Linked DNA regions of Homo sapiens: region 1 is linked to region 2. Evidence: fine-mapped expression QTL. A gene starts in region 2. The other region holds a variant in brackets. All regions are shown on one strand. Distances are between the middles of the regions.

What was found. PIP is the estimated chance that this variant, and not a neighbour inherited with it, causes the effect.
Region 1: its variant is fine-mapped to the expression of DLGAP2 in thyroid (GTEx, PIP above 0.99).

What each region holds. Positions count from the first base shown.
Region 1 is chr8:1,106,645-1,122,565 of GRCh38, forward strand. The region is part of intron 2 of DLGAP2 (DLG associated protein 2); the gene reads left to right. LOC124900249 (a long non-coding RNA gene) reads left to right here. Exons shown (of 2, transcript XR_007060781.1): 1 at 1-2,285; 2 at 2,974-15,921. Among named protein-coding and RNA genes, the nearest start is that of DLGAP2, 380 kb to the left of the region's middle. RefSeq lists an enhancer at 1,571-2,487. The variant G/A (reference allele first, on the strand shown) is at 7,346.
Region 2 is chr8:733,409-748,265 of GRCh38, forward strand. It overlaps DLGAP2 (DLG associated protein 2), which reads left to right and starts at 4,220. Exons shown (of 15, transcript NM_001346810.2): 1 at 4,220-4,417. The coding sequence starts at 4,400. It overlaps LOC124902044 (a long non-coding RNA gene), which reads right to left and starts at 3,622. Exons shown (of 2, transcript XR_007061156.1): 1 at 3,449-3,622; 2 at 2,626-2,809. LOC401442 (a long non-coding RNA gene) reads left to right here and starts at 5,140. Exons shown (of 1, transcript NR_134292.1): 1 at 5,140-6,966.

The DNA.
Region 1 (15,921 bases), 370 kb after region 2:
GATGGTTTTCTATTGAAGGGAGCCATTCTAGGAGGGTTTTCTACTGAAGGAGGCCATTCTAGGAGGGTTTTCTATTGAAGAGAGCCATTCTAGGAGGGTTTTCTATTGAAGGGAGCCATTCTAGGAGGGTTTTCTATTGAAGGGAGCCATTCTAGGAGGGTGAGGTGCTTGTCACTTACTTGTGAGTGACACCTGTGATGAACTGTGTTCAAAAGCAAATTATCAAATGAGAATAGAACCATTTGGACTCTGTAGAGGATAAGACTCTAAGGGTTCTAGGAGCAGGATTGCTTCAACATCTCAGACGTATTTTCTTCTGGGAAGAGTCTTGCCAGATAAGCAGAGTGAGAGAGTCTATTAAACCGCACCTGTATACAGCATCTAGCAGGCAGCAGTGAGTGTACTGACAATGCATTTCCCATTCTAACAAAATGTGACTTTTGTGTGAGTTGCTCACCTGCGGGCGGTATCACACACGCATCAAAATAAAAATCAGTGGGGGTACTTAAAGCACCACAAAGTGGAGAGAGCAGAGGCTTTGCAGTGCACTGGTTCTGTGACTTTGCTCCAAGACTTGGTTTTCTCATCTGTAAAATGGAGACAATAGCTCACAGAGAGGCTGGAGGTGAGGGTGACTGAGTGCTTTCTAGATACTCATCACCACTCCAGGGCTGGGAGGCTGGGCTGGCACAGACCCCTTGCTGTTGCTGAGCCCCCGCACCCGGGCCTGCCTAGGCCTCAGATCCACTCACACAGAGGTCAGCGAAGGCTTCCAGAGGCGTCCAAAGGAAGCGTCTGTGCACCAGGTAGATCCTTGTCCTGTGTGGGTCTCATTTGGCCTGAGAAAAAGCCACAGCTCTTCACAGGGAGAGCCAGGGCCCCTCGCGTGGGAAGCTCGTGTGCTGTTATTTTCCAGCGGAATTCCAGGGTGGAAACACGGAGGCAGCTGACTATCGAGAATCCTAGGAGAATGGGCTTTCTGTGTGACGTGTGCCTGGAAGGGCTTCCTGAGGCTTTATTTCCCCTGCTCTTCCCTGCTCTGTCCCAGCAGAGCTGTTTTTGTAAAGCACACATAGTATTTGCCATTCGTCACATTTATTATGCCAGGGACTCTGTTCTCCATCCCCCTCTGTGAGTTACGGCCCATCCTATGCTGTGTTTCCACACCCATGTTGCATTTGGCAGGAGCCTTCCTGACACCGAACCACCCTAAGCTGACAAATGTCTATAGCTCGGGGAGCACGAGAGGGAGCTCACGAGATGGCAGACAGACCAGGATGTGCACAGAACGTAACCCTGGGTTGTGGACTCAGCTTTCCTTCCTGAAGCGCCTGAAGCAAATAGAGAATAGTCGTAGTTGAGCCTGAGTTTCCAGAGGGGCAGAAAACCAACTTGCGTGTTTTCTTTTTATTGTTGCTTTTTTGAAAAAATGGTCCTAATTTCAGCTTGTTTTTCCAACCATGTGAAAGGATGGACTGGACGCTGCGCAGAAGTGGAGATCTTAGGTAAGAAGAAAGGATAGGAAGGTTGATGGGAAATGAATTGGCTGTCACTGTCCTTCCTGTCCAGATGCATTTGGAGGCTTTCTGGAGAATGGTTTCCAAACTCAGTATGTGCTGAATGTTTCCCCAATCTATGGGGAAATGAAAAGAAGACAGTGCAGTCAATTTCTGAAAGTTAACCACTTTCAGCATTAATAGAACAAACGAAACCCTGGGAGCAGCCTTCATGCTTGTTTGACGTTGCAGGGCGGCCTGTGATTGAAGCCGTCATGTAAGATGATGCTGTGAGATGTGAGTGAGTGCACGTGCCTGTGATGTGCGCTGGGTCTGTGAAGTGTGCACGTGCCTGTGACGTGTGCTGGGTCTGTGAGGTGTGAATGTGTCTATGAGGTGTGCATGTGCCTATGAAGTGTGCTGGGTCTGTGAGGTGTGCACGGGTCTGTGAGATGTGCATGGGTCTGTGAGGTGTGCACGTGCCTATGATGTGTGCACGTGCCTATGAAGTGTGCTGGGTCTGTGAGGTGTGCACGGGTCTGTGAGGTGTGCATGGGTCTGTGAGGTGTGCACGTGCCTATAATGTGTGCACGTGCCTATGAAGTGTGCTGGGTCTGTGAGGTGTGCACGTGCCTATGAAGTGTGCTGGGTCTGTGAGGTGTGAATGTGTCTATGAGGTGTGCATGTGCCTATGAAGTGTGCTGGGTCTGTGAGGTGTGCACGGGTCTGTGAGATGTGCATGGGTCTGTGAGGTGTGCACGTGCCTATGAAGTGTGCTGGATCTGTGAGGTGTGCATAGGTCTGTGACGTGCTGGGTCTGTGAGGTGTGTACGGGTCTGTGAGGTGTGCACATGCCTATGAAGTGTGCTGGGTCTGTGAGGTGTGAATGTGTCTATGAGGTGTGCATGTGCCTATGAAGTGTGCTGGGTCTGTGAGGTGTGCACGGGTCTGTGAGGTGTGCACGGGTCTGTGAGGTGTGCACGTGCCTATGAGGTGTGCTGGATCTGTGAGGTGTGCACGGGTCTGTGAGGTGTGCATGGGTCTGTGAGGTGTGCACGTGCCTATGAAGTGTGCTGGATCTGTGAGGTGTGCACGGGTCTGTGAGGTGTGCATGGGTCTGTGAGGTGTGCACGTGCCTATGAAGTGTGCTGGATCTGTGAGGTGTGCACGGGTCTGTGAGGTGTGCATGGGTCTGTGAGGTGTGCACGTGCCTATGAAGTGTGCTGGATCTGTGAGGTGTGCACGGGTCTGTGAGGTGTGCATGGGTCTGTGAGGTGTGCACGTGCCTATGAAGTGTGCTGGATCTGTGAGGTGTGCATAGGTCTGTGACGTGCTGGGTCTGTGAGGTGTGTACGGGTCTGTGAGGTGTGCATGGGTCTGTGACATGTGCTGGGTCTGTGAGGTGTGCACGGGTCTGTGAGGTGTGCACGTGCCTATGAAGTGTGCTGGGTCTGTGATGTGTGCACAGGTCTGTGAGGTGTGCACGGGTCTGTGAGGTGTGCATGGGTCTGTGAGGTGTGCACGTGCCTATGAAGTGTGCTGGATCTGTGAGGTGTGCATAGGTCTGTGACGTGCTGGGTCTGTGAGGTGTGTACGGGTCTGTGAGGTGTGCATGGGTCTGTGACATGTGCTGGGTCTGTGAGGTGTGCACGGGTCTGTGAGGTGTGCACGTGCCTATGAAGTGTGCTGGGTCTGTGATGTGTGCACAGGTCTGTGAGGTGTGCACGGGTCTGTGAGGTGTGCATGGGTCTGTGAGGTGTGCACGTGCCTATGAAGTGTGCTGGATCTGTGAGGTGTGCATAGGTCTGTGACGTGCTGGGTCTGTGAGGTGTGTACGGGTCTGTGAGGTGTGCATGGGTCTGTGACATGTGCTGGGTCTGTGAGGTGTGCACGTGCCTATGAAGTGTGCTGGGTCTGTGATGTGTGCACAGGTCTGTGAGGTGTGCACGGGTCTGTGAGGTGTGCATGGGTCTGTGAGGTGTGCACGTGCCTGTGATGTGTACTGTATCTGTGAGGTGTGCACGGGTCTGTGAGGTGTGCATGGGTCTGTGACATGTGCTGGATCTGTGAGGTGTGCATGGGTCTGTGACGTGTGCTGGATCTGTGAGGTGTGCACGGGTCTGTGACATGTGCTGGATCTGTGAGGTGTGCACGGGTCTGTGACATGTGCTGGGTCTGTGAGGTGTGCACGGGTCTGTGACATGTGCTGGGTCTGGGTCTGTGATGTGTGCATGTGCTTATGGAGTATGCTGGATCTGTGAGGTGTGCATGGGTCTGAGAGGTGTGCATGGGTCTGTGACACGTGCTGGGTCTGTGGGGTGTGCATGGGTCTGTGACATGTGCTCGGTCTGTGATGTGTGCACGTGCCTGTGAAGTGTGCTGGGTCTGTGAGGTGTGCATAGGGTGGGTGAGGTGTGCACGTGCCTGTGAAGTGTGCATGGGTCTTCAGTGTGTCTGCATCTGGCATGTGAGAGATCCAGCAGTGCCATACTGTCCCTGAAATTAGGGGAAAACAATGAGAAACCCAAACATCTGCAAGTAACTGCTTTCCATTTTCAGGGAAGATTTATAGCCTTTTTTTTTTTTTTTTTTGAGAGACATTGAGTGTCCCGCAGCCCTGCAGTGGCACTGTTTTTACAGACCCTCTCTCTCACATACAGCTTTCTATATTCACCCTGCACAGCCCTGACCCCCGGGACCCCACACACCCTCTGTGCCTGGTGCAGGGCTCAGCTACCCCTGTCTGTGGGGCCCTTCCCTGTGGATGGTGCTTTTGGGGGTTTGGGGTCAGGGAGTGTGAGGGTTGGTTCCTTGGCTGGGTAAGTCAGATGCATCTGCCAGCCGAAGGTCACACGTGGGTTTGAGCAGCCTCTCCTTGTGCTTGCTGGAACACATGCTCCACACCCGTGTGCCACCTGCACGCCACAGTGCCCGACTCCGGGGCTGCTTTCTGCCCGGGCCTTCCTCCGCCTTACCAAGCCCAGAACATCACTGATGGCAGGGCTGGAAATGCAAAGATGGCCAAGCTACAGAAAATAAATTAAATACAAAGAAAACATGGAGAGAGGTGGCTTAGTGTCCGACTTGCCTAGTTTCCTGTTGGCGCTCCCAGAGTGATGGCAGAAATCGTCTTCCCTCAGCTCCCGGAAGACCCAGCACTGTGTGTGCTGAAGGCTGTGGATTTTCAGGCCAGACTCCCTGGGTTCACGTTCCAGTCCCCATTTTCTGTGTGACCTTGGGCGTGTTTCTTTTTTTTTTCTTTTTTAACTTTTATTTTTGGTTCCGCGGTACATGTGAAGGCTTCTTACTTAGGTTAACTCATGTCACAGAGATGTATTGTATAGGTTATTTCATCACCCAGGTTTAATTAAGCCCGCTACTCAATAGTTATATTTCATGGTCCCCTCCCCGCTCCCATATGCCACCCTCCGATAGACCCCAGAGTGTGTTCTTCCCCTCTGTGTGTCCATGTGTTCTCATTATTTAGATCCCACTTGTAAGTGAGAACATGCAGTATTTGTTTTTCTCTTCCTGGGTTAGTTTGCTAAAGATAATGGCCTCCAGCTCCATCCATGTTCCTGCAGAGGTCATGGGTCTTATTCTTTTTATGGCTGTATAGTATTCCATGGTATAGATGTACCACATTCTCTATATTCAGTCTGTCATTGCTGGGCATTTAAGTTGATTCCATGTCTTTGCTTTTGTGAATAGTGCTGCAGTGAGCATTCACGTGCATGTGTCTTTATGGTAGAATGATTTATATTCCTCTGGATATATACCCGCTAATAGAATTGCTGGGTTGAATGGCAGTTCTGCTTGTAACTCTTTGAGGAATCACCACACACTGCTTTCCACAGGGGTTGAACTACTTTACACTCCCACCGACAGTGTATAAGTGTTCCTTTTTCTCCACAACCTCACCAGCATCCGTTATTTTTTGACTTTTTAATGATGGCCATTCTGACTGGTGTGTGATGATATCTCATTGGGGTTTTGCTTTGCATTTCTCTAATGATAAATGATATTTAAGTTTTTTCATATGCTTCTTGGCCACATGTATGTCTTCTTTTAAAAAGTGTGTTCATGTCCTTTGCCCATTTTTTTTTTTTTTTTTTTTTGAGACAGAGTTTTGCTCTGTTGCCCAGGCTGAAGTGCAGTGGTGTGATCTTGGCTCACTGCAAGCTCCGCCTCCCCGGTTCATGCCATACTCCTGACTCAGCCTCCCGATTAGCTGGGACTACAGGCATCCACCACTACACCCGGCTAATTTTTTGTATTTTTATTAGAGACATGGTTTCACCATGTTAGCCAGGATGGTCTCGATCTCCTCACCTCATGATTCACCTGCCTCAGCCTTACAAAGTGCTGGGATTGCAGGCGTGAGCCACCGCGCCCGGGCGTCCTTTGCCCACTTTTTAATAGGGTTGTTTTTCTCTTGTAAATTTGTTTAAGTTCCTTATAGATACTGGATATGAGACCTTTGTCAGATGCGTAGTTTGCAAATATTTTCTCCCATTCTAGTAGTTTGTCTGTTCGCTCTGATGATAGTTTCTTTTGCTCTACAGAGGTTCTTAAGTTTAATTGGATCCCATTTGTCAATTTCCCCTTTTGTTGCAGAAATTGCATGAATCATGAAATCTTTGCTCATTCAGGATGATATTGCCTAGGTTGTCTCCCAGGGTTTTTATAATTTTGGGTTTTACATTTAAGTCTTTAATCCATCTAGAGTTGCTTTTTGTACATGGCATAAGGAAGGGGTCCAGCTTCAATCTTCTACGTATGACTAGCCGGTTATCCCAGCACCCTTTGTTGACTAGGGAGTCTTTTCCCCATTAATTATTTTTGTCAGCTTTGTCTAAGATCAGATGGTTGCAGGTGTGTAACCTTATTTTTGGGCTGTCTATTCGGTTCCATTGGTCTGTGTGTCTGTTTTTGTACCACTGTCATGCTGTTTGTTACTGTAGCCCTGTAGTATCATTCAAAGTTGGATAATATGATGCCTCCAGCTTTGTTCTTTTTGCTTATGATGGCCTTGGATATTTGGGCTTTTTTTTGGTTCCATATGAATTTTACAATAGTTTTTTTCTAGTTCTGTAAAGAGTGTCATTGGTATTTTGATAGGAATAGCAATGAATCTATAAATTGCTTTGGGCAGTATGGCCATTTTAATTAAGTTGATGCTTTCTATCCATGAGCCTGGAATATTTTTCCATTTGTGCATTCTCAGATTTCTTTGAGGAGCATTTGGTAATTCTCATTGAAGAGATCTTTAACCTCCCTTGTCAGCTGCATTCCTAGGTATTTTATTCTTTTTGTGGCAGTTGTGAATGTAATTACCTTCCTGATTTAGCTCTCAGCTTGGCTGTTTTTGGTGTGTAAGAATGCTAGTGATTTTTGTACATTGATTTTGTATCCTGCAACTCTGGTTAAGTTGTTTATCAGCTGAGAGAGCTTTTGAGCCAAGACTGGGGTTTTCTAGATATAGAATCTTGTCATCTACAAACAGGGGTACTTTGACTTCCTCTCTTTCTGCTTGGATGCCCTTTATTTTTTCTATTGCCTGATTGCCCTGGCCAGAACTTCCAATACTATGTTGAATGGGACTAGTGAGAGTCGGCGTCCTTGTCTTGTGCTAGTTTTCAAGGGGAATTCTTCCAGCTTTTACCTATGCAGTATGATGCTGGCTGTGGGGATGTCATAGATGGCTCTTAATATTTTGAGGTATGTTCCTTCAATACCTAGTATATTGAGAATTTTTAACATGAAGAGGTATTGGATTTTATTAAAAGCCTTTTCTGCATCTATTGAGACAATCATATGGTTTTTGTCTTTAGTTCTGTTTATGTGAT[G/A]AATCACATTGATTGATTTGTGTATGTTGAACCAACCTTGCATCCAGGAGATGAAGCCTACTTGATTGTGGTGGATTAGCTTTTTGATATGCTGTTGGATTTGGTTTGCAAGAATTTTGCTGAGGATTTTTTTCATCGATGTTCATCAAGGATATTGGCCTGAAGTTTTCTTTTTTTGTTGTGTCTCTGCCAGGTTTTGGTATTAGGATGACGCTGGCCTCATAGAATGAGTTGGGGAGGAGTCCCTCCTTTTCAGTTTTTTTTAATAGGTTCAGTAGAAATAGTACCAGCTCTGCTTTATACATCTGGTAGAGTTCAGCTGTAAATTCATCTGTCCTGGGCTTTTTTTTGGTTGATAAACTATTCATTACTGATTCAATTTCAGAGCTTGTTATTGGTCTGCTCAAGGAATCAGCTTCTTCCTGGTTCAGTCTTGGGAGGGTGTAAGTGTCCAGGAATTTATCCATCTCTTCTAGGTTTTCTAGATTGTGTGCATAGAGGTGTTCATAGTAGTTTTTGGTGGTTATTTTTATTTCTGTGGGGTCAGTGGTAACATTCTCTTTGTCATTTCTAATTGTATTTATTTGGGCCTCCTCTCTTTTCTTCTTTATTATTCCAGCTAGCAGCCTATCTTACTAATTTTTTTTTTCAAAAAATGAACTCCTAGATTCATTGATTTTTTTCAATGGTTTTTCGTGTCTTGATTTTCTTCAGCTCTGATTTTGGTTATTTCTTGTCTTCTGCTAGCTTTGGAGTTGATTTGTTCTTGCTTCTCCAATTCTTTTAATTGTGATGTTAGGTAGTTAATTTGAGATCTTTCCAACTTTTTGATGTGGCATTTAGTGCTACGAATTTTCCTGTTAACACTGCCTTAGCTGTGTCCCAGAGATTCTGGTATGTTCTTTCTTTGTTCTTATCAGTTTCAAAGAACTTCTTGATTTCTGCCTTAATTTCATTATTTACCCAAAGTCATTCAGGAGGATGTTGTGTAATTTCCATGTAATTTCATGGTTTTGAGTGATTTTCTGAGTCTTAACTTCTACTTTTATTGTGCTGTGGTCCAAGATTGTATTTGGCATGGTTTCAGTTCTTTAGCATTTGCCTGAGGATTATGTTCAATTATGTGGTCTGTTTTAGAGTGTGTGCCATGTGGCAATAAGAAGAATGTGCATTCTGTTGTTTTGGGGTAGAGTGTTCTATAGAGGTCTGTCATATGCATTTGGTCCAATGTGGAGTTCAGATCCTGAATATCTTCATTAATTCTCTCTCAGTGATCTGTCTAACACTGTCAGTGGAATGTTGACGTCTTCCACTATTATTGTGTGGGAGTCTTTTTCTCTTTGAAGGTCTCTAAGCCCTGCTTTATGAATCTGGGTGCTCCTGTGTTGGATGCATATATATTTAGAATAGTTAGGCCTTCTTGTTGAATTGAACCCTTTACTGGGCATGTTTCTTAACCACGGGGAATAACTTTTCATCTGAAAATTGGAGTAGTAATAACTACTTTATAAAAATATTGTGAAGATTCTGAGTTTGTGTATGTAAAGTGCCTAAGACAGTGCCTACCACACCATAGATGCTGTAGAAATTTAAATGATCTAAATACAGTGGTGGCATCTTTAGGGATCCTTCTTGTAGGCAGTGGTAAAATCAAACAATTCAGAGGACGGAGGTGTAGCTGTGAAGTGTCTGTGCTGCCAGGGATCCCCAGTGCTGAGACCACTGGCTATGTAGAGTTACAGCTGGTGCTTTGGCATGAGAATTCACATCAGCGGTCAGCCACACTCATTTTAAGGCACAAATGACAGTTTTCGAATTTGTTGAGATGATCTCATTTGGGCTCTTCTTCTAGTCAGTCATTTATCCCTGCCACACACAGGGGACTGTGCCAGGTGTATGGAACGTTGTTGTCCTTTGCTCAGTGATGGGACATAATGGGCCTGGAATCTTCTAGAAGGCATGAGAGCATCACTCATAGACATCAGTGCCCAGGAAACGATCCCAGCAGACAGCACCGTGGGAGCCATTCACTCCGTCAGACGTGGCCAGTGACAGTCACTTGGGAGGACTTTCCAGGGGTTCTTGGAAAGCTGGGGGTGTGGGCCTGGTGGGTGTCTGTGGTTTTGGAGATCTTGGCCTTGATGCGGTACGCAATCCCATCCCCATGGGGTGCGCAGGCGTCAGCTGGGGACACCCGCACTGGCCTTCCGTGTGAGAAGGGAGCAGGCCCTCCCCGTTCATCTGGGTCCTGACATGCTCTTGGGTTTTCTGTATTGTCAAGTGACTAAGGGTTACCGACCACCCTCCAAAGCACCAGCTGTGTCTCAGCCACAGCCTGGACGAAGAGTGAGCGGTTGATGCCCGGAAGACTTGGGGTCAGAAAACCTGGGTTTGGATTTAAATTCTACAATTTGGTGCTAGATAACCTTACAAGAGGCATTGAGGGTTTTCTTATTTCTTCAGTTTCTTTATCTGTAAAGTGGGGGTGACAATATTCACCTCACATTGAGAATGGGGCAGATAATATATTTGAAAATATCCAGTAATTACAATCCCTGCACTTAGGGAGGCCAATGTGAGTGAATTGCCTGACCCCAGGCATTTGAGACCAGCCTGGGCAACTTGGCAAAACCCCATCTCTACAAAAAAATAAAAACAGTTAGCCACACGTGGTGGCATGCCTGTAGTCCCAGCTAACTCAGGAGGCTCTCAGAGGTGGAAGGATTGCCTGAGTTCAGGAGGTCAAGGCTACAGTGAGCTGTGATTGTGCCACTGCACTCCAGCCTAGGTGACAGGGCAAAACCCTGTCTCAAAAAAAAGAGAAAAAAAAAGAGAATATTCATTACTGTATCTGGAACACGAAGAACTGAATAAAAATTAGTTGACTCTGAGTCTGAACACAGTTGATGGGAAGACAGAAACCAAAGCAAAACCTCTTCCGCAGCCAACAGCTACTGGCTTCCTCTGCGGAAGGGAGATCCCAGGATCGCTTCTGCCAAAAGAAAGCTGAAAAATAAACCCGATGTGCAGTCCTCAGATGAACCCTGTGCTTCTCTGCAGGATCCCAAAGCTTTATGGGTTTTTAAAATTTGCTACAGCAATTTCATCTCCTTGGGACCCAGCATCAAGAAGAGGTTTTGGAAAACCCAACACCGTCTCTTTGACCTGTCTTGGAAAACCCAACACCGTCTGTTTGACCTGTCTTCTTGAGGTGAGCCTGTGGACAAAGCACAGTGCCGAGCTAGTGCCTCGGGGCTGTGCCCTCTCTGAGGCTGATGGCACAACCCTGGGCAGGTGTGCAGACAGATCCCACCACTCAGAGGTGCCACACTGGGGACGCCACGCTGGGGATGCGGTGACGATGCACGGTCTTCTTTGAGCCAAGAAATTGAAGCCAAAGGTTAGAAATGTGTAGTGGGTTATGGGTGATCAAGTGTCAGATTCACAGAGAAGAAACAGGCTCACGGTGGGAAGATGCTTAGAAATGAGGACTGAGGGTGGGGTGGACGCTGTGTAGGACAAGCCTGAACCAAGACGGCCTTTTCATTCCTGACCGTCAGATTCAGAGAGAAGAAACAGGCTCATGGTGGGAAGATGCTTAGAAATCAGGACTGAGGGTGGGATGGACGCTGAGTAGAGCAAGTCTGAACTGAGATGGCCTTTTCATTCTTACCCTGTGGTTGCCGGAGTGAGGGGAGGGCAGTAGAGAGGAGGGGGAGGCGGCTGTTCTCCAGACCAGGACTCTTTGTAAGACACCCCCAGGGGGCTCCCCCAGGAGAGCAGGCACACAGAATCACCTGCGCATTCTTGACACTCACTTGGGCTCAGAGCCTCCCCCTTTCACAGTGGGCAGCACTGGTTCACAGTTAGGCTTTTGAAAGTTTTTTTTTTTCCTTTAAGAAAATCAGACAAAAGTATCAGCAATTCAAACATGGAAAAAGCATTTTAAAATAAAAGTTAATGAGTAGATACCGTTTTCCAGATGGAATAGTTCCAATGAAATTATAAAGCAAATTCGTTAATATTGATATGCTTTCAAAAGTTGTATAGATTCATTTGGTCTTAAGTGGTTTTGACCTGAATGCTGTACCTCAGCTCCCAAAAGCATTGCATGTCAGTTGACAGAGGAGCGGGCGGAGTGGGGAAATTAACCGCAGTTCAGAAAGTGCTTTAATGGCTTTTTCTAAAATGCATTCATTACACTTTAAATAGGCCATGTCTGGAGATTCTGAAGTCCCTTATGTAAGTAGGATGTGAGCTCGGGGGAACTTCTTCAGCTTCACTCTGGTGCTGATTCCAGCATCTGCAGCTCTTGACCCCGTAGTGTGTGAGCAGAGACTGAGAAACTTTCGAAACTGCATTACATTGTCTTTGTTCAGTTCCTTACGTGACTGAGGACAGTGAAAAGAGCCCACCTGGTGTAAAGTGCTCATTTTAGCTGCCAAGAAAAGCCTAATTTATTTTCAGGGCAAAACTTCTGCACTGGGACAAATGTCTTCATTATAATCCAAAAGCAGCATCAGGAAAAGAAGCTAAACTGTGCGAATAGAAATGAATGGGGCTGCTGCTGCTGCTGCTGCTTTCTTTTTAATCAGTAGAAATGGAATTCTGCCTCCCAAACAGAAGTCTAGGAGGAACTGCAGACGGCCCCTGTACTGAGGGCATTTTGTCAGTGCTTAGAGCAACCTTCAAGATCATGACACTCTGCTATGAGGACCGAAAGAACTTGGAGATAAATATACATGTACTATGTGGTGGGACCGTTTTTGAATCTGAACTAAATTAAATGATGGAAAACGACCTTGGGTGAGTTCTTCATGGCTGTACTTCCTGGAATGATACAATTTTTCAAAATAATTTGTTTCCTCGAAATGACACCAACACCTATAGTTAAGTTTAAATTTATGGGACTAGGTGAGTGTTATTTTGTGAGACATAGCATTATGCTTACATAGAATAATTTATCGTTTGATGTTCAATATCATTTTATTTAAGCATAACTGTGGAGAACCATTCAAGTGACTGTATAATTACTTCATATAAATACTTAATAGACAACTTTACCATTAACTATTTTCCTACTACTTTATAACCGATTCTATTTTCAATTGATAAGTGATTTTTTCCCATTTAAGTACTGATTTGCAGTTTGGCCCATATTATTTTGCACTGAGATGGCATAAATGCCACATCCTTCCCGCACTTAAGGCATGCAATTTGCAGAATAAGACGTAAATTTTAAGTAGGTTTGGAATCTTTTGTAGGACTACTTTTATTTCAGCCTTTGACATAATATAAGCTTGTTAATTCATCTGCAAAATATTTTAGTGTCCAGCGTGTTTAGCTAGAAAGAAGCTCCAGTTGCCTCCCCATGCTCTTACATGGGAGGCTGACTGTGCATCTACTGCAGTGCGTCATGTGAGTGCTGGTTTTATTCCATGACACCAAGAACATTGCTTAACTTCTGTACTCATCAGTTCATAAATGAGCACAAGGCCCATTGCTTCTCGCAGTTCAGCCCTGCTGCTCTTCTTCAGCAGATCGGGGTAGCAGGGGCAGTAGCTGAGAGATGCTGAGCAGCCTGAGGCTTCTGGGTGCCGTGCCTGGAACTGGTCCCACCACAGCACACACGCTGTTTCCTCATGTGAACAGCTGAGCTTCAAGTGATGGCATGTGTGAGAGGCTTCGCCACTCAACTTTGAATTTAAGTATCCCCAGGGACTGTCAAACTTTTTATATCCAATGGGGAATTTCACCTTGAAGTTGGACCACAGCTGCCTCTAGAGTTGGTACAAGTTGTGAGAGTCACAGTTGACCCTACCTTGACTTAGGAGAGTGGTTGGCACCATGATTTTAAATAAAATACAGTGAATGGGGTCCAGCACCCTAGCTTATTCTGCTTTAGGGACTTCTCACTAGAAAGGTTTCCTTGTAGTTGGGAAGACCCTTTCTGGAAGGCTGCTATAGGAAATGGCTAAGATGAAAAGTGGGACTCAGCACTTTTAGGGCTGGGCTGAAAAATGAGTCTGCTGGCAAAACCCTGTGTCAGGCAGCAACTTATAACAAAAACAGGAAAATCCCTACTACATCTTAGCTAAGTTGGAAATTCAAACATCTTTGCAGGTCCCATTTCACCACCGTTGGGTCTGTGGACGTAACCCTACTGAGAGTTAGGCTAAGGGTTCAGCCCCTTCATTTATGGGAGGAGGAAGAGAGCCATCCTCCATGCAGCTGCTTCTGTGGCTCACACCCAGACACGGAGGGGTCAAGCAGCAGTCAGGGCCAAGGCCTGAGAAGCTCAAATCACACTCATTAGGCATCTTCGTTCCAGCCAACATGCGTCCGAATGAGAACAATACGAAGGGGCACCCCTTCAGAATTTGTGAACACTAACCCTAGTCCTTCAGATACCATGACAGCTATGCTGGTATCTTAAGAATCCATGACTGTCCATTCTAGACCCTTCAGAAACCATAACCACCTTTCTGCTACTTTCATAGCCCACAGCCACCCATCCTTCGGAACCCACAGCTACCCAGCTGCCCATCTTCATCCCCTCAGAACCGATGACCACCCATCCTTGTCCATTAGGACCCATGACCACCCATCCTTGCCCATTAGGACCCATGACCACCCATCCTCATTCCTTCAGAACTCATGACTATAAACCCTAGTCCTTTGGATGCCATGATGCCTATCCTGGTATCTTTAGAATCCGTTACCGCCCATTCTAGACTTTGCAGAACCCATGAACACCCATCCTAATTTATTTAGAAACTAGTCATTCTAGTCCCATCCTAGTCCCTTCAGAACCCCTCGTCTCCCATCCTCGTCCAGTTAGAACCCATGACCACCCATCCTTGTCCCTTCAGAACCCGTGACCACCCATCGTCATTCCTTCAGATCCCATGACCTCCCATCCTCATCCAGTTAGAACCCATGACCTGCCATCCTTATCCCTTTAGAAACCCTGACCACCCATCCTCGTCCCTTCAGAACCCAAGACCTCCCATCCTTATCCCTTTAGAACCCCTGGCCACGCATCCTTGTCCCTTCAGAACCCATGACCTCCCATCCTTATCCCTTTAGAACCCCTGATCACCCATCCTCATTCCTTCAGACCCCATGACCTCCCATCCTCGTCCAGTTAGAAGCCATGACCACCCATCCTCATCCAGTTAGATCCCATGACCACCCGTCCTCCCCTTTGGAACCCATGACCTCCCATCCTTGTCCAGTTAGAACCCATGAACACCCATCCTCGTCCCTTCAGAACCCATGACCTCCCATCCTCGTCCAGTTAGAAGCCATGGCCACCCATCCTCGTCCCTTCAGAACCCATGACCACCCATCCTCGCCCAGTTAGAACCCATGACCTGCCATCCTTATCCCTTTAGAAACCCTGACCACCCATCCTCTTCCCTTCAGAACCCCTGACCACCCATCCTCATCCCTTCAGAACACATGACCTCCCATCCTCATCTCTCTAGAACCCATGACCTCCCATCCTTGTTCCTCCAGAATCCATTACCACCTATCCTTGTTCCTTCAGAACTCATGACCACCCATCTTCTTCCCATTAGAACCCATGACCTCCCATCCTCTTTCCTTCAGAACCCATGACTACCCATCTTCATCCCTTCAGAACCCCTGATCACCCATCCTCATGTCTTCAGAACCCCTGACCACCCAACCTCATCTTTCCTGAACCCATGACCACCCATCCTTGTCCCTTTAGAACCCACAACCACCCGTCTTCATCTTTCCTGAACCCATGACCACCCATCCTTGTCTCCTTAGAACCCGTGGCCTCTCATCCTCATTCCTTTAGAATTCATGACAACACATCCTTGTCTCTTCAGAACTTATAACCTTCTATCCTTGTTCCTTTAGCATCCATGAGCATCTGTCCTATTTTGGCCATTTGCTCAGAATTTCATTTAATGGGAGACAGACCCTCCTAGGTATTGAGTGCTTCTTTCTCATGGTGTTGCCCCAACCCATACAGAATTTCATTTAATGGGAGACAGACCTTCCTAGGGATTGAGTGCATTTGCCCCTCGTGGTAATGCCCCAAGCCATTGAGCCAGAGATTGCACTCCCTTAGGTGAACTTTGAGCCAGATGTGGACTGGTGTTACTACGGTTACCATCAGGTTCCGGTCTTGTTTATGGCTTTAGGGATCATTCGGTTCCACAGCAGACTCTCATTTCATGGAAGAATGAAATGGGACATCACTGGGTGACCCTGTTTCTCCTCTTCTGTCCATGGAGACAGAGTTTTCATGACACGCACAGGTTTTGCCAGTTGGATCCTCTGGTCAGGACTGAAAGAACCTCTGAGTCACTGGTGACACATGAGATTCTAAATGGCTTTCCCTAGGATGGGCTGATCTTTACCAATGGGCTGTTTAAATGTGCAGCTGAGGAGGATTCCTGGGAGCTCTGTTACTGCCATCCAGAGCTGAGGGGAACGTAGAGAAAGATCACATTTTTGATCCCACAATAGGTTGAATCGCATTTAAGAAAATCCTTTTTCTTTTATCATAAACTGTTTTGTCATAGTAAACTTGTTTC
Region 2 (14,857 bases):
AAGCAGAAACTTGATGGAAATTCATAGAATTTCGAGGAAAAGTTAGACATTGACTGTACACCATTCTCTGGCGGGACCATGCAAATGGGGCAATAACTGGAGGGTTTTTGAAGACAGAACACATACACACACACACACAGACAGAGAGAGAGAGAGAGAGAGAGAGAGAGAGAGAGAGAGAGAGAGAGATAATTTGACCTGATCAAATTACTGTTGAAAATGAGTGATGCAGGAGGGGAAATAATCCCTGTAATGAGGCTGCATCTTGAACTTGTTCTCCACTTCATCATTCTCACCAGCACTCAAGCCCACTGTGGACGCCCCCATAACAAAATCCTCCCAGGAAATAATGTATTTTTCTCCAGCCCTGTTTCTTCAATCTCTCCCACACTCAAACTGGCGGAAAGAGTTGATTACAAAGCCCGTCTCCACTTTGACGTCTTCCATGGACTCTGTGACCCCGTCCAGCTTTTCTCTCCACCCCTCCACTGCACCTGCTCCTGACAAAGTCCCCAAGGCATCCATGTCCCCAGCTCCAACACACAGTTCTCAGTAAGCATGTAACACACTAAGGCCTCCCAGAAGTGTCATCCAATTGCTGGGCCAAACTTGGGGGTCATTGGTGACTCTCCTCTTCCTCTCTTCCTGAATAACCCATCCAGAAAAATCACATCAAGCGCATTCTACTTGCAACGTGTCTTACTTCCACTGCTGAGTTTGTGTTTTCATCATTTGTCACTAGGATTTCTCCAGCCTTTTTTAAGTTGATCTCTGAAATCCCAGGATTTCTCCGAGCATTTTTAAAATGATCTCAATTCCACTCTTGTTCCTCACTCCCATCCTACCGACATTTCTTCTTATAGCAGCCAAAATGGTCATTTTAAAACCTCACTGCCATTCAAAAATCACTGAAGGTGGACCATCCAGCAACAGGATAGGGAAGAAAAACCACACAATCACATCATTAGATGCAGACAAAGCATTTGACAAAATCCAACACCCATTCATGATTTAAAACCGAAACACCCTCAGCCAACTATGATTAGAGGGTAACTTCTTCAGTTTGATAAGGGACACCTACAAAAACCCTAGAGCTAACAGCATACTAAATGGTGAGAAACTAGAAGCCTTTCCCACTAAGATCAGGAAGAAGGCAAGGCCCCCCCCTCTTGCCACTGCATCTCACTGTTACACTGCAATTCCTGGCCAATGCAATGAGACAAGAAAAGGAAATACAAGGTATACAGATTGGGAAGGGAGAAATAGAAGTTTTCTCTGCAAATGACAGGATTGTCTATGAAGAAAATCTCTGCCTTGCTCAAAATCCTACATCATAATTCATTGTATAGAGGATACAAATCAAAGCCCTTAAAATGTCCTGAAAGACCCCTGAGTTTTTCTCCCGTCACAATCATGTGGTCCTTTTCTCCCTCAGTTGCAGTTATTCTGACTGTTCAGTTAAACGAAAATGTGGCCAGGCATGGTGGCTCATGCCTGTCATCTTAGCACTTTGGGAGGCGGAGGCAGGAGGATCGCTTGAGCATGGGAGTTGGAGATTAGTCTGGGCAACATAACAAGCCCCTGTGTCTACTAAAAATACAAAAAGTTAGCCAGGCATGGTGGCACATACCTGTAGTCTCAGCTACTCAGAAAGCTGAGGTGGGAGAATCACCTGAGTCAGGGAAGTTGAGGCTGCAGTGAGCCGTGACAGCACCACTGTACTCAAGCCTGGACAACAGGAGTGAGACCCTGTCTTAGAAAAGAAAAAAGGCCAGGTACAGTGGCTCACGCCTGTACTCCCAGCACTTTGCGAGGCCGAGGCGGGTGGATCACGAGGTCAGGAGATCGAGACCATCCTGGCCAACATGGTGAAACCCCGCCTCTACTAAAAATACAAATACAAATAATAATAATAATAATGATAATAATAATAATAATAATAATAATAATAATAATAGCAGGGCATGGTGGTGTGCACCTGTAATCCAGCTACTCGGGAGGTTGAGGCAGGAGAATCGCTTGAACCAGGGAGTCAGAGGTTTCAGTGACCTGAGATAGTGCCACTGCACTCCAGCCTAGTGACAGAGTGAGACTCCGTCAAAAAAAAAAAAAAAAAGGCATCAAGTCCTTCTATCTCCCAAGGTCTTCAGGCCTGCTCTTATCTCCCTAAATCCTGTTCCCAGGGCCATGGCAGAGGCCACCTCTGATGCCACCCTCAATGTGCTCTCAGGTCCCCGTGCACTCCCCTGCTGGTTGGCCTCTGGACTTTCTTTGAAGCTTTGGGAGGTGCTCAACTTGGGGAGTGGGGTGTGTGGGTGAGGAGCAGCCCTCAGTCACTGGGACCTAGAAGCTGAAAAGCTGTCCAGCCTTCCTAAGCTGACGTGCACTCCAAGCTGCTCCTGTTAGAGCACCCCAGCAGGACGGGGCCCCGGTGGCCACAGGAGCAGCCCAGCGTCACCGCAGCCTCTGGGACGTCCTCTCCTGCCCTGCCTCTCTCTCCCTACTTCCTCTCTCTAGTTTCCTGGGATCGATCTCCCAAATGAACTACCTGCACCCAAATCCACACCTCAAAACCTGCTTGTGGGAGAACCCAGGGGGAGATTTAATAACGACGTCCTCAAAAAGTTCTTTTCTGATGTCACAAACTGTATTTGTTGCCCTTTTCACATTCACCAATAACACTCCATATGTTTCCTTCAGAGAATTATAACTTGTAATTGTCTGTTCCTTGGGTAACTTCTGGGCGGATCCCTCTCTAGACTGAAGGCTTCATGGGGCGGCAACCGTGGTTTTCTGTGCTGCTCACACGCTGAGAACACAGGAGAGGCCGTCAGTACATTTGTGTGATTTTCTTGTTGCGGTTGCATGAAATAATATATATATATATTTTTAAAAAACGTGAAGGGATGGGGACGAAATGCAGGGGAGGAAAGCAAAGGGAAAGTAAATTGTGAAATGAAAATAAATTGGCCTGGAATCTCTCCCTAGTTGAGGTTTGGGCGCTGAATGCACCTTTTTTTTTTTTTTTTTTGACAGTGGAGACCACTGATAGATTCGGGAAACATTTAGAAGAAATGGACAGCGGCCGGACTTCTTTCTCCCATTCACCTTTCTACCCCCTCGTCGTTTAGCACTCTGCCTTGAAAATAAACTGCAACTGATGAATATTTTGGTGATCAATTATACGGGGAATTCTTACAGAGCCTGTTTTTTGTTTAAAGATCTTGGAATTTCTGGAAAAGATTGGTTTGTCCATTCCAAATATTTTGGATGACCTGATTTCATTCTAACTCCCATCCGTCTTTCTATGCGGTTTGTTTTCGCATCTTTTACCTCATTTAAATGCCGTAGCCATGCAGGTGGAAAGCAGAAATCCATTTCTGCGTTTATGTTAAACTGGGGCTGAGAGACTTGCCCAGGGTCGGTGACCGCCCAGGGATCCCCATACCAGCGCGTCTAGCTCCCGCGTTCCGATCCCGGAAGGGAAAACCCATGATCCTGGCGAGGGTCCGTCCACACGTGGCCAGGGTGGCTGATCTTCCCGGCTGCTGTGGTTGTCAACACCACTTCTCCGGATCGATTTTCCCTTTTCCTCGGCTCTGTCGTCCATACGCCACTCACAGCAAACCCAGGCGGCGGGCCCCCTCCGAGGGCGCTCCTTGCGTCCGGACCCAGGTTCTCGGGGCGCCCCCCGGTGGGTCCCCGCGAAGCCGCCGCCGCACACCTTCCTCAGCGTAGCCCGCCAGTGGAAACCGGGGGAGGTTCTGCCTCCAGCACCCAAGCGGCGGCCGCACCTCGCAGTGAGACCCTCGCAAGCGCCCGCGCCTCCCTCGCCCCGCGTCCCCTCTGCCCCGCGAGCCCCCCTGGGCGCCGAGCCGACTCGAACCCGAGCGCGAGTCCCGCGCACAAACGCGCCGGCGCGTCTCTAACAGCGGTCCAGAAAGGCTGACCCTGCCCGGGGGCGACGGGTGTGACCGGGTCCCCCGCTAACTTTCGGGCGCGGTGAGCGTCGCCTGCGCGCGCCGCGGTGGAGGCCGCTGCTTTCCCGCCGGGAGCCCGGCACAGTCCCCGGGTGACCCGCGCGCCCCGCGCAACAGTTGGAGCCGGGCTGCCCGCGCGCTCCCCAAGCCGGGCCCTTCCCCAGATGCAGCCGCGCGCCGGCCGCCCCCCAGTGCGCCGGTGCCTCCCTGGGCGCCGAGTGCGCAGGCGCCGGCCGTGAAGACCGACCGTGCGCCGGGCTCGAGCGCGGTCTGAGCGCGCGGCGCCTGCGGCGGCGAACGGACGGACGGACCGCGGACGGACGTACTGACCCCAACCCGCGAGCCCCGGGAGCCGTCGGTCTGAGGAGGGGCCGCTTCGCCATGTCGCCCCGCACCTGCTGAGCCCGGAGCGTCCGAGGATGTCCGCGCTGAGGAAGGTGCGAGCCGCCGGGGGCTGCCGGGAGCCGGGCGCGGGGCTCCGAGAGCCGTCGAGGCGGGGAGGGCGCGGTGTGTCGGACCCGCGGGGACGCCCCGAGGGCGTCAGGGTTGGGGGCGGGGGCGAGCGGGGGTCGTGCCGCCCGCCGGGGCCGGAGCGCTGGGGACCCCAGGGACAGCCTGTGCTCGGGGGTCGCGCGTTGCGCTCCTCGCCGGGCTCCGCGCATCCCTGGCCGCGCTCGGGGGTGCCGGGACCCTGGGCTCCGGGGGTGCGGGAGCGCACGGGGCCGCGGAGGTGTGAAATTCTCCGCTCTGCCTGCCCGGGGTGGAGGGGGCAAAGCCTGGGGGGTGCCGGCGCGCCAGGGGCTACGCGCCTAGCTCCGGTGGGGCAGCTGCGAGCGAGTGGGGGCGGCGGGCAGCAGACTGCATCCCCCTCCCCCCAAGCCCGGGTGGAAACGCCGACGGGGACTGGGAATGAATGAAGGGTGCCGGGCTGGGCTGCGCGCACGGGGGCTCGCGGGGGCGGGGGCGACCAGGATGGGGCCCTTGTGCCGGGCAGCAGCGGCTGCCGAGACCAGGCGGAGTGGAGGGTGCGCGCAGCGAGGGGGTGGCCGCCGCCCGGCTCTCCAAGTGCGAGCGAGGAGCTCGGGGTCTTTTTTAGGGGTGGTTGCTAAGCGAGGCGCTACCCAGCGCAGGGTTTTGTAACTAAGCCTCCCCCGGCAGCGGCTGTTGCTGTCTCCGGCTCCTTCGCTAACGATTGCAGGAGAAATAATGAGGATGTAATTATTACAGCCCTGCGCGGAGGGCTGGGGGGCGGCGGACGCGGGCTCCTCTGCCTGCGCGCCCAGGTGGGGCTGGGCTGGGCTGGGCTGGGCTGGGCTGGACTGGACGCCTCTCCCCGCCCGGCCCTCCCTCAGCGCGCGGCGTGTGCGGTGCCCGAGGCTTCGGAGCAGGCTGGACCTGGGAACCCGGGGAGGGGCCTGGAGGAGAGATAGCTGGGCGAGGTGGGCGCCGGCGAGAAGGCGGAGCCCCCGGACAGCGTAGGTTCGCAGGTGGAGAGCGGACGCGGGGGCGAGGGTGCGCGGCGGGTCTGCGATGCGCGTCGGAAACTCGCGGCCCCCGGTCCCGGCCCTGCGCGCTTGGAGCCCGGGTCCTTCCAGCCCCTGCGCGACGCCGCCGCCGCCGCCGCCGGTGAATGGCGATCCCGGCCACGGCCTGGAATTGGAAATTCGTGACTTGTCGGCGGCCCCGGTCTTCTATCGATTAAAGATAAAGCGATCAGCAGTGAATTTATCCTTCGTGTGGATGAACTCGGCCAGCCCGGGCTGTGGGGGGTTTGGGAACTGTAAATATTCTCCAAAGCGCCGCCGCTTCTCCCGTCTTCCCGGACTCGAGGCTGGAGGCAGCTCCGGCGACGCGAAGGGGGGTACCCCCCGGAGAGGTCGGGCCTGGGGCGCGGCGGACAGAGACCCGGTCCCAGAGCCTGGCGGAGCCCGACAATCCGCCCTGTCAGGAGGAATCTCATCAACAGCCCGTGAATTAATTGTCCTTGCAGTTGGGAAATAACCCGGTACCTCGGCGTAGCCCGAGGGAGTCCAGGAGGCTCTCCAAGGAGCCTTCCCCCGGGTCGCGAAGCTGCGCTAAACCCCGGCCCCAGCGCACCTTGGAAGGCGCATTTTGGCCTGAGGTGAACGCACCTTACACCATTTTCATTTTACTTCCTTTTCTCTGAGAAAGGTAATAGATAACCAAGGCCAAAAATGGCGAAATGATGAAAAAATGGTAATTCTTGGCAGGTCAAGTTGTTACTCTGGGTTTAAAAAAATGTCATTAATCAGGATTTTCCAGTAGCCAAATTGTCTTGTGCCGGCAGCTGGGTGACTCACAGATTTGGCTCCAATAGTAATTGTAGAGTGTGCGTACCATTTCCTTCTGGATGGTGTGACTTTTTCATTGCTTGGAAGAGAACACATTAGAATATTTTATCCCCTACATCTGGCAGCATGTGGAGCAGGCTGTAGGCAATACTCTGTCCAAGCACATCTGGGCGGGGAGGCCGTGGAGGGACCGAGGTGACACAGAGCCGGCCCTGTCCTCGGTTCTGTCTCGGGTCACCTGAGGCATCTTCACCGCGGCAGCTCGGGCGCGTGGGATCTGCTCTCAGTGATGACCTGGGACGCATCCTGCCTCTGTGCGCCATTCCTGCCCCTTCACTGTCACTCCTTGGTGATCGCCCGTGTTCTTGGGTAAGCAGTGGAGAGGCACAGAATGGCTTCCTCTGTTGATCTACCGCGTCAAATCTGTATATTATAATTTCAGGTTAAAGGGTAAGAGTTGTAAGCAAAATGAGTACTACGTCAAATAATTCAAAGGAACGAAGTAATTAAAAGTAAAGCTTTCTCAGCACGAAGATGTTTTCTCAGATAAGCATTCTAAGTCAACTTTTCATAGTATTCAATGTCTATTTGTTATTCTTCGAAAGAACTTTGCACTTATGATTGTCCAAAGTGGTACAGCTTGAGACAGAAATAAACATGTATTTATTTACCAACTTTTTGTATGCCTTTTGTTACTTGTGATTTAAATGGGTTAATTCGATTTTTAGTTTTGTAGAATTCAGATCACATGACATTATTTCTCCCCAGTGACATACATGCCCTTCTGTGGCAATCTATTGCTTCTCTTATTTGTGTCTACTTATTTCAGTTTTGAAATTGGTAGAAATTCCAAATTAAATATTAAAAGCAAAAATAGGCTTCGTGGAATTTAAATTACATTGGATTCTGTGTACCCAGAACCCAACTAATTCTGAAACTAAAGTGCTCTAATATCTTTTTAAGGGTGAGAGGATTTTGTTTTGTTTTATTTTGAAGATATCATCTTCCATAATGTTGAAATTGAAGAAATGCTATAATTTTTTTATTATATAACTGTATTTGAGGAAAAGCTTCATGACTCCTCAGTTATCCAAGGAGTTGAATGATGTATACTTTGATTATAGATTTTAAAATGAAGTTGATTAAATATTCTATTTATTGACCCTCAGGATGGATGCTCCATGGTCATTCATTGGATACAATAAAAATAACTATGATTCATCATTTTGGCCAGATGGGAGTCATATTTAGAGCATTGCCATCATGTTGGTTATAAAAGAATTACAGGCTGCCATACAGGAAGTTAGTAGGCACACTTTCTATGCAGTTAAAAATTATTCTTAATCAACCGTAGTTTTACCAACTAGTTTTCATCATACGAGGCTTTCTAGTGCCACTAACTTCTTCAATATGTTTTGTTGTTTCCTGGGTACTTGTGCGTACAAAAACTGAGCATAGTGATTTCACGTGTGCTCATGACAAAAGACTTTAATTTCTAGGGAAGTTAAGCAGATGGGCTTTGGCATTGACCAGGCATGGGGTCGTAGGGTGTGCAAACTCTAGTTTAAATCTTGCATCTACTGGTAGCCACCTTTCCCTTCCAAGGCTTAACAGCAGTAACAAATTAATCTCCTCAGCAAAGGCAGTAGGAGCTCATTTGTAAAGCTCTGTTTTTCTTTTTTCATGTCATTCTTCTGTGCACTGACTTCATCTGCCTATGAAAATCTTCTCCCAGTCCTCAGGTCATGGGCCTTGACATGCAGTCCCTTAACTTTAGCTCCAGGAGAGGGGCCTGGGTGTTCTGACATCCCGGTGATGGGTGTCCGCTGCAGGTGCACCTCTCCTGACTTGATGGCAGTGTCTTCATGTGGGATGTCAGTTGCCTTAGTTCTGGAAGTGTCCTGTCTGTATTTATTGGCGGGCCTTCAGGAGTTGAGCTTTCTAGACCCGTTACTGCAGACTCCAGTGTATTTGCAGTTCAGTGTACGCTTCCCTTTCCAGGCAGCAGCCAGCTCCCCTTAGGGAACACCTGCCACCTCATGGGGTTGGCTTGGCGGACCCTACTTCCCGTCAGAGGTGGCTCCTGACTGGCCGGAGCCCTAACTCCCTCTCAAGAGCAATTGGATGAGTGAAGAGCGGGAACTTTCAAGGAGAGGAAAGCTTTAGGAAAAACAGCGGGAAAGGTGTAAGGCCTGCAGTTGTGGCATCAGTGCACAGCCTTGCAGGGATGGCCTGTCTGGAAATGACACCTTCCTCATCTGTCTGTGGAGGAGAAGGGCGGCTGTTATGCAGAGAGCTTGGTCCTGAGGATGCTGTTGGAAGCTCTGAACTAAGTTATGCCTGAACCATCATTACCCCGTGACTTTCAGTTACATAAACCAGGAGATTGTTTCTTTGAACTGAGTTTTCTGTCCCTGACAAGCAAATGGGATGTATGGGCTTTTAGTTTCTTCAGACATTTCCACATTAAACCTCTTGTTGCAGGGAAAGGCTTATTCATCTTCGGGTACTGTTTCTTATATGGTACATCGTGTGTATCGGCAGGAAAAAAAGAGAAAAATTTAAATCAACCATTTTAAACAATGAATAAACATTTGGAAATAGCCCATCTGTAAACTTGTGTTAAAAATTTTTAAAGTAACCTGTGAATCTGACTGATCGTTGTCTTTAAAATGTTTCATACTCTGTACAAAAGAAGAAAAATGGGAATGATCTCAAGGGTCCATAGAGTATGTATTTTAAGTTAGGCGGTATTGAAAAACATCCTTTTGTGTGTAACGAATGTTTGTCCTGTGACTTTTGCACAGCATTGCAAGTGGCTTTTTAGAGACAGGGTCTCCCTCTGTCACCCAGGCGGGAGTGCACTGGCATGATCATAGCTAACTGCAGTCTTGACCTCCTGGGCACGAGTGATCCTCCCACCTCAGCCTGTCTAGTAGTTGGTGTATGTCACCGCACCCAACTAATTTTTACTTTTTTTTTTTTTGGTAGAGACGGAGGTCTTGCAGTGTTGCCCAGGCTGGCCTTAGATTCCTGTCCTTAAGGAATCCTCCTGCCCTGGCCTCCTCAAGTGCTGGGATTACAGGAGTGAGTCACTTTTCCCAGCTGCATTTGGCTCTTTATTTGACCTCACCGTATTTCAGTTTTCTCATCACTAAGAGTGGGGCCAATGCAATATTAACTTGATAGGGTTAAGGAGGATTAAATGAATTCATGACTGTAAAGTGATAAGAATGGTGCACGTAGGAAATGCTGGATTAGTCTTGACTATTTTTATCATGAAAAAATACAATTGAGGCCTACTTTGAGTCAGTCCACAATGGAAGTTATCAAGCAACTCTTTGATTTCTCTCAAAACTGTTTTATTTATTATTTCTGGTCTTGTTTTACTTTTTTGTATATCTCTTGCCACTTTCCAAAAAGTTTTGGACCCAACTTAACCACAGAAGGACAAGGGAAAAAATGCTAATTAGAAAATAGAAATAGAAAATCGGAAGAAACACATGTGATAACCATGAGGATGGATGTAATTCTCTGGGCATCACGTTTGACACTGAGCTTCCAGGGAGTCAAGTCAACAAAACCCAAAACTACAAAGCCATGTTCAACCTGAGGATCATGCTTTCAGGGTAGACGTTGCATACTCATTTTTTGGTGAAGATAAATTTTCTCTGGCACTAACTTGTAAGAGATGTTCTGAGGGTAGATCTTATATTCAGGGGCTGGGGTTGTGTAATATATAACAGTTAAAAATACAGAAGTATTTTTTAATGATTTTGTCTTGATTTGGTTTCTTTGAAATAAACCAAAAGCAAAACTCACATGCACAGCCTACCCTCAGCACTGATGACCTCTTCTTGGTATTTATTTACTTACTTATTTAGAGACGGTCTCACTCCTGTGTTTCAGGTTGGAGTGAGTGGCATAATCTCAGCTCACTGCAGCCTTGACCTCCTGGGCTCAAGCGATCTTCCCACCTCAGCCTCCCGAGTAGCTGGGACTACAGGCGTGCACCACCACACCCAGCTAATTTTTTGTATTTTTAGTAGAGATGGGGTTTCACCATGTTGTCCAGACTAGACTCTGACTCCTGGGCTCTAGCCATCAGCCTACCCCAGCCTCCCAAAATGTTGCGATTGTGGGCATGGGCCACTGCGCGATGCCTTTTGCTGGTATTTGCATGTGATTTCCGTGGCCGGGTCTTCATGTCTGGATCACTCACTAAGCTACTGTGGTTTAGGGCTGAAGACGTGGATTCACGTCGTGTGTCCTGCAGACAACAGCAGTTTCTCAAGTTTCACGTGCCTTCACGTTTCCTCTGAGTCTTTGCATCTAAATGCCCAGACACCTGTTTTAGCTGAAGGAAGTGACTTGTTCTGGTGGCCGTGGCAGTCTATGGATGGAGCCATCATCGTGGTTCTCTCAGACCCAGCGCCGCTTCCCTCTTCTGTCTCTCATCTTGTGCGTTGGGAAGAAGTGCTCGTTCGCTCAGCAAGCTTAGAGGCAGCGTCTCCTCTCCACATATACCCCCGACCCACGAGATTGGGTTGGGAAGGTTTCTCTGTGCTCTGACTGTTAGGGTGACACCTCTCACCACCTTGTAATTCCCACTTTCCTTGTCTTTGATGTATTGGAATAGCCACTCTGTGAGGAAGGGTCTTGATCACCCTTGAACCCTGGCCCTGGGTCGCATCTAATGATCTGAATGGGTGAAGGTGCAGAAGAGGGGCTGACGCCTCCTCGAGGTACAGATTCCCCAGCCCAACCTGCGTCCCTCCCTCTTCTCCGGCCACGTCGCCCTCCCGGGGTGCTGGCCGTCTGCTCCCCACGGTCACTCCCTGCCTCTTCTCCGGCCACGTCGCCCTCCCGGGGTGCTGGCCGTCTGCTCCCCACGGTCACTCCCTGCCTCTTCTCCGGCCACGTCGCCCTCCCGGGGTGCTGGCTGTCTGCTCCCCACGGTCACTCCCTGCCTCTTCTCCGGCCACGTCGCCCTCCCGGGGTGCTGGCTGTCTGCTTCCCACGGTCACTCCCTGTTCCCTGCCTGGGCTGTGCCCCAGCAACACTCTGGCTTCACCCACACTGGACGGTGCTTTTCATTCCGTCCTTTCCTCATGTCTGTTCTCTCAAACCTAGTTGGAATGCTGCTTCCCCGGCCCCGATGCCTGAGTGAGGTCATGCTCCCAGCCTCCGAATTCCTCGCTTGGACTGGGTCCCGGCTTCCCCATCCCCCAGTCTGTCCGCATGCTGTCCTCAGTGCAGCAGAGATGGCGGGAAGGGGTAGCCCAGGCCATCCCCACACCTGCCGCAGGGTTTTAGGCCATGTCACTGGATAAACAGTTGCATGAACTCGTAAATACACACCGTGAATGCCTCGTTACGCCACCGTCCCTTCTCCCGCTGCTTCCGAGTTGTGGGTGCTGGAGACAAGCACAGCGGCAGGTTCTTTACCTTTTTTCTTGGTCTTTAATATGAAACCTTTAGCTCTTTAAAAATAATTTCCATTTTGTAACATTCTTTGTAATATTTTGACATTCTGAGCAAATTTCCGAACATCTGTTTTCTGGCTATACTATATATAATTTAGAAATTTGCATAAACAATTGAGAATTGTAGTTTCAACCTTTTGTTGTGGCCATTTCAGAATGAAGCACTACTGGGTCTGAAACAAAATGTTCTAGGTTGTCACTATAATTAGATTCAAAGTTTTATTTTTGTTGGTGAAACTTGAGTTCCGTAGTTCTTTAAAGCAACCAAACAGTATTTCTCAGTCTTCAATTTATCCAGCTACTTGCTTCTCTAATGATATTTTCTCAAGAGTCGCAGCACTCAATTTTAAAAAAACTCTTCTTTACATGTAACTATCCCAGCAATTTCACTTCTGGAAACTTTTCCTAAGGAAATAATCATGAATTTACAATAAGTTAGCTAAGTGGATGTTCCCTCCAGTTTTGTTTCATAGTATAATATTGGAAAACAGCAGTAACAGGATTGGGTAAATTCATGGTGGTACAGCAATGTTATAAAAAATACACATCCACAAAAACATGAAAGTTAAGTACCTAATTCTATAAGAAGGTGTTCATACCATATTAAGTAAAGAGAACGGACTATAAGACAGTATGAATACTTTCATCCCATTTCCCTAAAGCTACTGAGTTTGGAGCATAAAGACCAGACTGGAAGGATACCGACTCCAGAAAGAGGAACCCTAGAAGCCTGATCACATCTCCATCTCACTCAGCGCCAGGCCACCTGCCTATGGGGGTCCGCACCACCCCTCACGGCCTGCTCAGGCCAGCCAAGGTCATCCCCTCAACACTCTGCCCCCGTCACCCAGGCCTCCTTACTGGTGCCTGAACTTCAGTGATGGTCCTGGTCGGGGCCCGTGTGCCCTGCAGGAAGGCCGGGGGTGCGTCGCTGCTTTCCTCCAAGCCTTCCCACATGTGGAGCTTCTCAGAGAGACCAGGCCAAAGTGGGTGCCATCCCTCCAGTGCTCCCAGCTCCCTTGCCTTCTCACACCCCATGCGACTTATTTATTTTCGATGTTTTCTGATCATATCTGGCATCTGTTGAACGTTTCCTATGTGCTGGGCACTGCTGGGCGAGTTACTCATATTAACTCATAGAATTCTCATGCCAGCCCTGTGAGGTCAGTGCTGGCATTGTCTGCAGGCTGCGGATGAGGAAACTGGGGAAGAGGGGTCAGATGGCGCATTGGATCCCGTGTGGGGTCACACAGAGCCACAGGCCACGTCGGCAGGGGGGCTCCAGAGCTGGGGGCGCAGCCTCCACCATCCAGTGCCACGGGCTGGGAGAGAAGATCTGTGGGATAGAGGGCCGTCCACTGTGGTCATGGCAGTGTCCCTGCACCTGACACCTTGCTGGGCATGAGCCCCTCATCTGCTGAATGAATGTGGATCAGAATGCCAGCTGCACACTGGCAGGTGCTGAGGTGGACAGTGGTTTTGATTTTCTGTTTTTGTTTTTTTGCTGTATCAGCATACTTTTGGCTGCATATAATAGAAAGTCCCACACAAAACAGAAACTGAGGATTTGTGCGTTCTTACCACAAAGCACCACAGCCGGGCATCCTCAGCAACCAGGTTCCCTCTGTCTGCTCTGTGGCCTTCACCATCCCGGTGTAGCCCCTGCTGGCTGCGGACGCTGGTCCTGAAGGCATGATGCGAGGACGGTGCCCCTGTTAGGGTGATGTCGGCCCTGCAGGCGTGATGGGGACACCTTTGCAGTAAGGAAACCTTACTGTGAGTTCTCGGGAAGACCTCCCCTCACATCTCACCATGTCCGAGCCAGTGGCTAGGAAGGGAAATGGGCCCCTTGCCCTGGGCCTGGGGTGGTTTTACTCGCCCTCCTGGCCTGAGCTGTCCTGGTTCTCGGGGGGCTGGGGAGAGCGACACTGGAAAGCCGGCCTGTCCTAGAGACCAGGAGGCTCTAGAGTGTGAGGGGCTGCCGGGCACTGCCCCGCCTCTGACTGCTCTTCTGAGTTTGTGTACTACCCACAACGCGTCATACTTCTGAGTCTTACGGGACTTCTTTACGTTTTCATTCAGTAAAAAGACTGCAAGATATCATAAAGCAGACAGGGAAGGAGAAACCTCCTCTGAAAACCATCGAGCCGTAGTGACAAATGCACCATTTACCATGCTCCGCGCCAGTCACGCGATGGGCTTCTCCGCCGGGCCTCGCTTAGGCATCTTTGGTCCCAAGTTCCAGAAACAAGCTCTGGCTGATGAAAAGCAAGGCGGAGAGGCTGGGACAGGCCACGTTCCAGCCGAGGGGAACGCGGAGGACACAGGCGGCTGGAGGGTGACCTTTGAAGTAGGACGGGGCGCAGGGCGGGGGTGGGGGGCTCTGCAGCAGTATGAGGGGCTCCATGACGGGACGGGCAGGCTGTGTGGCAGGATTGGGTGCGGGGGCTCCAGGATGGGGCAGGGTGGGGGCCTTTGTGGTGGGATGAGTGTGCTCCATGGTGGGATGGGCGGGTCTGTGGTGGAATGAACGTGTCTGCGGTGGGATGGGGGGGCTCTGCGGTGGGATGGGGGTCTCTGCGGTGGGATGGGGGGCTCTGCGGTGGGATGGGGGGCTCTGTGGTGGGATGGGCGGGCCTGCGGTGGGATGGGGGGCTCTGTGGTGGGATGGGCGGGTCTGCGGTGGGATGGGCGGGTCTGCGGTGGGATGGGCGGGTCTGCGGTGGGATGGGGGGCTCTGCGGTGGGATGGGCGGGCCTGCGGTGGGATGGGGGGCTCTGTGGTGGGATGGGCGGGCCTGCGGTGGGATGGGGGGCTCTGCGGTGGGATGGGCGGGTCTGCGGTGGGATGGGCGGGTCTGCGGTGGGATGGGCGGGTCTGCGGTGGGATGGGGGGCTCTGCGGTGGGATGGGCGGGTCTGCGGTGGGATGGGGAGCTCTGCGGTGGGATGGGCGGGTCTGCGGTGGGATGGGCGGGTCTGCGGTGGGATGGGCGGGTCTGCGGTGGGATGGGGGGCTCTGCGGTGGGATGAGCGGGTCTGCGGTGGGATGGGCGGGTCTGCGGTGGGATGGGGCCGGCC